Homo sapiens: one gene and its partner. The protein of the gene in region 1 purifies or fractionates together with the protein of each later gene. This does not show direct contact. Each region holds a gene or a part of one and is shown in the gene's direction. Other genes may lie near its edges. The genes, in order: BSDC1 and SERINC3.

The links.
Region 2: the proteins of BSDC1 (region 1) and SERINC3 fractionate together in Homo sapiens (co-fractionation; one large-scale study listed by BioGRID). This does not show direct contact.

What each region holds. Positions count from the first base shown.
Region 1 is NC_000001.11:32,380,784-32,384,603, reverse strand, and holds part of BSDC1 (BSD domain-containing protein 1), read left to right. Parts: intron 1-555; coding exon of another isoform or gene 556-606; coding exon 607-774; intron 775-3,335; coding exon 3,336-3,390; intron 3,391-3,820.
Region 2 is NC_000020.11:44,511,875-44,515,694, reverse strand, and holds part of SERINC3 (serine incorporator 3), read left to right. Parts: intron 1-1,654; coding exon 1,655-1,816; intron 1,817-2,700; coding exon 2,701-2,894; intron 2,895-3,820.

The sequences.
Region 1 (3,820 bases):
CAAAGTATTCTACTTCCTGAGCAATGATGATGATGAAATTGCAGTATTACAATGCTGCAGTTTATTAAGCGTATGCTGTGTGCCAGGCATTGTCCATACCCTATCTTTTAATCTTCATGGTAACCCTATGAAGGATGTATACTTAACCCCATTTTATAATAAGGAAACTGAGGTTCAGAAAGGGTTTCGGTCTCATGACCAACAAGTGGTAGAGCAAGGATTCAAACCAGCTTTGTCTAACTCCGAAGCTAGTACCCTTTCCACCACTCTACCCATAGGCTCTCTTCCCTGTTGATGTGTCTATGGCATGGACCTTCTCTGGCCAAGTTTTGACCGGCCTGACTGACCTTGAAATTTTGATGAAACAGCCAATCAAAGATCTCTGATCTACACAGGCCTACCATGGCCCTGTTCTGCAGCCCCACTTGGGGGATGGAGGACCCTTGCCTCCTCCCTCTCCTGCAGCCCCAGAGACGGGTGAAGGGTCGTGAGCGCTTCCCTGGTCCCCCAACACACGGTACACCTTTGCCCCAATGTTTTACCCCCATACCCCAGATTGCAGCCTGTTCCCGGGGCGCTTGCTTCCTCTGCCCGTTCTCTATACAGACGGAAGGCTCCTCAGGAGCAACAGAGAAGATGAAGAAAGGGTTATCTGACTTCCTAGGGGTGATCTCAGACACCTTTGCCCCTTCGCCAGACAAAACCATCGACTGCGATGTCATCACCCTGATGGGCACACCGTCTGGCACAGCTGAGCCCTATGATGGCACCAAGGTATTCACTGACAGTCTCCCCTGCAGATGCCTAACATCTGTAACCTGGGCTTTAACTTCCATCCTGTACTCACAAAAGCAGCCCATGTTCAGGCCAAAAAATAAATATGGGTATATTATTAATAGTAAATCAGAAAATACCAGTAAGCAAGGACAGGATAATTATTTTTAAACTCACAATTGCATCACCCAAAGAGAACCCCTGATTTCTTATTGGTATATAACCTTACATTTGTTTTTGTTTATAAACATAGGTAAAGATAGTTTGGTTTTTTCTTCTGAACAAAAAAGACATTTTATACATGCAGTTTTGTAACCTACTTTTAAAAAATCAACAAACATAGCATCTTTCCTAATCATCTTTTTTTTTTTTTTTAATGAGACAGGGTCTCACTCTGTCACCCAAGCTCTCTCTGGGGCTCAGTGGCACAATCATGGCTCATTGCAGCCCCGACTTTCCAGGCTCAAGGGTCCTTCCACCTCAGTCTCCTGAGTAGCTGGGACCACTGGCGTGAACCACCACACCCAACTAATTTAAAAAAATTATTTTGGTAGAAACGGGGTCTCACTGTGTTGCCCAGGCTGGTCTCAAATGCCTAGGCTCAAGTGACTCCCAGCTTGGTCTCCCAAAGTGCTAGGATTACAGGAGTGAGCCACTGTGCCCAGCCAGCCATAATTTTTAATGTCTTTAAATTCTTACAAGTGAATATAGCATTATTTATTCCATTATTTCCTTCATGTTGCATATTTGGATTCCTTTCAGCTTTCAAGCATAATAAGGAACGCTGTGGAGAGCATTTTTAGAGGCATAATCTCCACATTTGGGTTATTTAGACTAATTTCTAGTAATACACGTATAGGTAAGGGGAGAGAGGTGTCTTCAGAGCACTTAAAGCAACAGCCACAGTAGCGTATTTTTGCTGCATTTTCTTTTCTTCTTCTTTTTTTTTTTTTTTTTTTTTTGAGACGGTCTCACTCTGTCACCCAGGCTGGAGTGCGGTGGCATGATCCCAGCTCACTGCAGCTTCAACTTCCTGGTCTCAAGTGTTCCTCCCACCTCAACCTCCCTAGTATCCCTAGTAGCGGGGACCACAGGCGTGCACCACCACACCTGGCCTTTTTTTTTTTTTTTTGTAGCGATGAGGTCTCCCTATTCTGCCTAGGCTGGTCTCAAACCCCTGGGCTCAAGTGATCCTCCTACCTCAGCCCCCTAAAGTACTGAGATTACAGGCGTAAGCCACCGCGCCTGGCCACATTGTATTTTCTATTTCATGGAGTGTTTTCTTCTAAATTCACAATATAATGTCATGGCAGTTGGGCCCTCTTCGTAGTTTTTTTGTTTGTTTTTTGTTTTTTGTTTTTTTTTTGAAATAGGGTCTCCCTCTGTCCCCCAGGCTGGAGTGCAGTGGTGCGATCACAGCTCATGGCAGCCTCGATCTCCTAAGGTGCTCCTCCCACCTCAGCCTCCTGAGCAGCTGGGACTATAGGCACACATCACCACGCTCAGCTAATTTTTATGCTTGTAGAAATAGGGTTTCCCCATGTTGCCTAGGCTGGCTTTGTAGCATTTTATCACATTGACTTCTGTTTTTTTTTTTTTTTTTGAGATGGAGTCTCTCTCTGTCGCCCAGACTGGAGTGCAGTGGAGCAATCTCGGCTCACTGCAACCTCCACCTCCTGGGTTCAAGCGATTCTCCTGCCTCAGCATCCTGAGTATCTGGGATTACAGGCGCACATCACCATGCCCGGCTAATTTTTGTATTTTTAGTAGAGATGGGGTTTCACCATGTTGGCCAGGCTGGTTTTGAACTCCAGACCTCCAGAGATCCACCTACCTTGGCCTCCCAGAGTGCTGGGATTACAGGCGTGAGCCACCGCACCCGGCCCACATTGAACTTTTGTTCCAAAAGTACTGATTTTTCAAGTATGTGTTTTAGCACTAGCATTAGCGCCACCACTTAGTGAACATGTGAGTGGAATTGTGAAAATGTTTGATAAGATTTTGAGCTATAACGACAGTGAATTATCACCAGACCGCTTACACATAGCCCATGCTTCCTGCAATACTGAGGAAGAAAGGTGGACTTTGTCTTTGCCAGCTAAGTTTGCCACCCTGTGATCCTAGTGGGAACGTAACTTGGTAGAGACTGGCTATACAATTAATAAATTCTTGAGTGGTTTTAATTTGAGGGAAATTGTGTTATTTTAAAATTTGTCCCTAAATTTTGACTTTATTAACATATTGGCACTAACATTTTTCAAATTTTACTTACTACAAAGCATTTTATACAAATAATTTTGTAGCCTGCTTATGCTGTATTTTCTTAGTTCTTGGGGTAGAATACTGGGTGAAAGGCCATTTTTCTGGGAACCCCAGTTTTGGATGCCTAGCCTAGTGCCCCACTCTCTGTGCCACAGTGCTAATTAACAGATGCCCTGGGGGTATCCCAGCCAACAAGGGAGAAGCTGGATTGTGGTTGACTGAGTATCCTGGCAGAGAAAGGGTGCTTTCTATGCCCAGTATCTCAGAATTTCTGTTTTCCTCTTCTCCTTTTCTTACAGGCTCGCCTCTATAGCCTGCAGTCGGACCCAGCAACCTACTGTAATGAACCAGATGGTGAGAGGGTAGCACTGAGCGGGTGGGCTTGTAGGGCAAGTAGACTAAGGGGGCTGGGTTGTAGACCCTGTTTGTCTCAGGTAGCAGAGGCCGGGCACCCCCTATGTAGGGAGACCAGAGTGAGACTAGTGTGTACCTTATACTTTGTGGGGTGGGTGGATGTTCTCTTTTCTTTCCTGAACTTGAGCTGTCCTGCCCACCCTGCAGGGACTTGGCCCCTCTCATCCCTCATCCTCAGCTCAGCCTCCCTCCCAGCCCTGCTGCCCCCCTTGCCTTCTCTTCAGCTCCTGTTAGCTAAGCCCCTGCCATGCAGCAAACCCCATTATGGGAACTGGAGATCAGAAATGAGCCAAACCCTCCACCTAGTCCAACCCTCCAGGAACTGGCAGTTAAGAGGGGGAAAGCAGAAACAGTCAATAAAGTAGAAATA
Region 2 (3,820 bases), on another chromosome or scaffold:
TGGGCAACAGAGTGAGACTGTCTCAAAAAAAAAAAAATAAAAAAGCGTATAGTGGCATTTAGTACATTCACAATGTTTTGCTGCCATCACATCTGTCTAGTTCGTCGCCCTAAAGGGAAATCCTTTACCCATTAAACCATCACTCCCATTTCCCTTCCCTTCAACCCCTAATCTTCTGTCTCTAGATTCACTTATTCTGGATATTTTATTATATAAATGCACTAATACAGTATGTGACCTTTCATGTCTGGCTTTTTAAATAACTTTGCATGATGTTTTCAGGGTTCACCTGTGTTCTATCATGTATCTATCTATTATGTCTGAATAAGCCATTGTATAGATAGACCAAGTCTCACTCTGTTGCCCAGGCTGGAGTGCAGTGGCATGATTTCAGCTCAATGCAACCTCCACCTCCTGGGTTCAAGCAATTCTCCTGCCTCAGCCTCCTGAGTAGTTGGGGCCACAGGCATGAGCCACCACGCCCGGATAATTTTTGTATTTTTAGTAGAGATGGGATTTCATCATGTTGGCCAGGCTGGTCTTGAACTCCTGACCTCAGGTGACCTGCCCACCTCAGCCTCCCAAAGTGCTGGGATTACAGGTGTGAGCTGCCGCACCCAGCCAGATATACCATATTTTTACTTAGGCCATATTTACTTATCAATTAATGGACAGTGGGTTGTTTCCACATTTTGGTGATTGTAAATAGTGGTGCTGTGAATATTCGTGTACAAGCTTTTGTTTTAATAGCAGTTTCAAACAAAACAGCTATTGGGGTCGGGTATATACTTTCTGGGTCATATGGTCATTCTGTATTTAACTTTCTGAGGAACCTGGTTCCTCTTGAATTGAGCTAAATGGCCCTTGCTGTTATTATTTGTCAGAGGGTTTCCATGTAGTGTTGCTTTATTTTTTTATTTTATTTTATTTTTTTGAGATGGAGTCTCGCTCTGTAGCCCAGGCTGGAGTGCAGTGGCGCAATCTCAGCTCAGTGTGAGCTCCGCCTCCTGGGTTCATGCCATTCTCCTGCCTCAGCCTCCTGAGTAGCTGGGACTACAGGCGTCCGCCACCACACCCGGCTAATTTTTTCTGTATTTTTAGTAGAGACAGGGTTTCACCGTGTTAGCCAGGATGGTCTCGATCTCCTGACCTTGTGATCCACCCGCCTCGGCCTCCCAAAGTGCTGGGATTACAGGCGTGAGCCACCACGCCCGGCATGTTGCTTTATGTTGTAATATCAGCTTTGGTAACTTGGATTCGCAGTAAGCAGCAAGTGGAGTTAGGTTTATATTTTTCTCATATTTTAAAACAAATGATGCTCTCAGAATATAATTAACATTTATTGAACTGTTAATGCATTTTAGGTAGTGTTGAGTGCTCATTTAATACAGCAGAGTCTGAGGGAGGAAAATTCCATTATTGAGCTCATTTTACAAATGGTCAAATGGGGTTAGAGTACGTAACTTGCTGGGGTAAAAAGCGGCAGAAATAATATTTACTCCAGAGCCCGTACTTTTAACCACTTCCTCCCAGCCATGATTCTCTGAGTTAAAACTATAAAGCCTGATTTGCCTCGCTTTCTCTTCTGCGACATCTGTGTCATAAAGGAGTATACTGAAGGCGGTCTCAGGTGACCATGGTGTGCTCATTCCAGGTTCCATGCCTCTGCAGCGGTGCCTCATGTTTGCTGTGTAGTTGCTGTCCTAACAGTAAGAATTCCACGGTGACTCGCCTCATTTATGCTTTCATTCTCCTCCTGAGCACTGTCGTATCCTATATCATGCAGAGAAAAGAGATGGAAACTTACTTGAAGAAGGTAAGAAGTAACAGTGCCCTTAAGGTATTGGTTATTTTTATTTTTATATTCTGCAAAATTCTAGTTTTATTTCGTCGTTGTTAATCAAGTTGGTTGTAATTTGGAGATTTTTTACTTATATGGGGGTGTGGTCAAAACACAGAAATATGAGGACATTAGTCCTTTTCCAGAAATACAGAATGAACATCTGGGCTCCAGTCGAACAACTGAGAGAAAACATTAAAAGGGTGGCTCCAAAACATTTTCTTTCCTTATGTGTTAAAGGTCGAAGCATCTAAACTGGACTAGTTCTTCACCTTTGGAAGGACTCAGTCGTAGCTGGAAAATCTCACAGGAAAGTGGCACACAGCCTCTTCATCCTAAAAGGGCAAAGAAGAGAGACCATATTTTTTTGAAACTAAGACTCACTCTGTTGCCCAGGCTGGAGTGCAGTGACATGATCTTGGCTCACTGCAACCTCCGCCTCCCTGGTTCAAGCAATTCTCCTGCCTCAGCCTCCCGAGTAGCTGGGATTATAAGCATGCACCACCATGCCCGGGTAATTTTTTGTATTTTTAGTAGAGATAGGGTTTTCACCATGCTGGCCAGGGTGGTCTCGAACTCCTGACCTCGTGATCCACCCACCTCGGTCCCCCAAAATACTGGGATTACAGATGTGAGCCACCGTGCCCAGCCGAGAGAGCATTTTTATTTTTAAAATGCATGTTATTTATACTGTTTGGTAACAAGATTGTAAATGAATTGGAAGACAAAGAGAAAAATTCCATAGTCAGTCTTGCAGTTGTTGAAGTAGTTAATTTTCTAAATCCAGGCTTTCCTGCAGTGGGTTAGAGTCTCTGTCTAAATGTAGATATTCTCGTAACATTGAAATTGCTTTTTTCCAGATTCCTGGATTTTGTGAAGGGGGATTTAAAATCCATGAGGCTGATATAAATGCAGATAAAGATTGTGATGTGCTGGTTGGTTATAAAGCTGTGTATCGGATCAGCTTTGCCATGGCCATCTTTTTCTTTGTCTTTTCTCTGCTCATGTTCAAAGTAAAAACAAGTAAAGATCTCCGAGCGGCAGTACACAATGGGTATGTTAGATTTATGATTAACTGGTTACATTATGGTGTGGCTCTTCCTTCCCTTCAGCAGTTAATATAGCCATTCTGATGAAATCAATGGAATATGTAAATGAGTGGCTCAGATGCATTTCTGATCTATTATGCATGTGAAATTGTTTTAATGTCATTTTCAGTTAGATTGCTGTAACATGGAGGGGATAGGGGGTCTTGTCTTTTTATTTTCTTCTATTAAATTCCTTTGCTTCATGTTCTTAGATTTTTATTGAACACCTGTTAAATAGTTGAAGCACTATGCTAGATACTACGTACACACACACTTTTTTCTTTCTGTTGTTTAAAGATAAACATGTACCTGATAAATTTAAACAGTGTACAAAAGTCAGTGAATATATATGTGCTACTGATTTACATATTCTATTGCTTCTGACTCCTGACCACCTTTTACCTATGTTTCTAATTCTCTCCTTTTTTTTTTTTTTTTTTTGTTTTGTTTTTGGAGATGGAGTTTCACTCTTGTCACCCAGGCTGGAGTGTAATGGCGTGATCTCGGCTCACTGCAACCTCCCCCTCCCGGGTTCAAGTGATTCTCCTGCCTCAGCCTCCCTAGTAGCTGGCATTATAGGCACCTGCCACCATGCCTGGCTAATTTTTGTATTTTTAGTAGAGATGGGGTTTCACCGTGTTGGCCAGGCTGGTCTAGAACTCGTGACCTCAGGTGGTCCGCCCGCCTTTGCCTCCTGAAGTGCTGGGCTTACAGGCGTGAGCCACTGTGCCCAGCCGTATTTCTAATTCTCAAAGACTGAATGGCGTTTTATAAACTTGATGTGTATTATAATCCCCTTTTTACAGATGTAGTAACTGAACTGCAGAGAGGTTAATAAATTGTCTGAGACCTGTTAACCAGTTGGAGGTTGGAGCTAAGATTGAAACTTAGA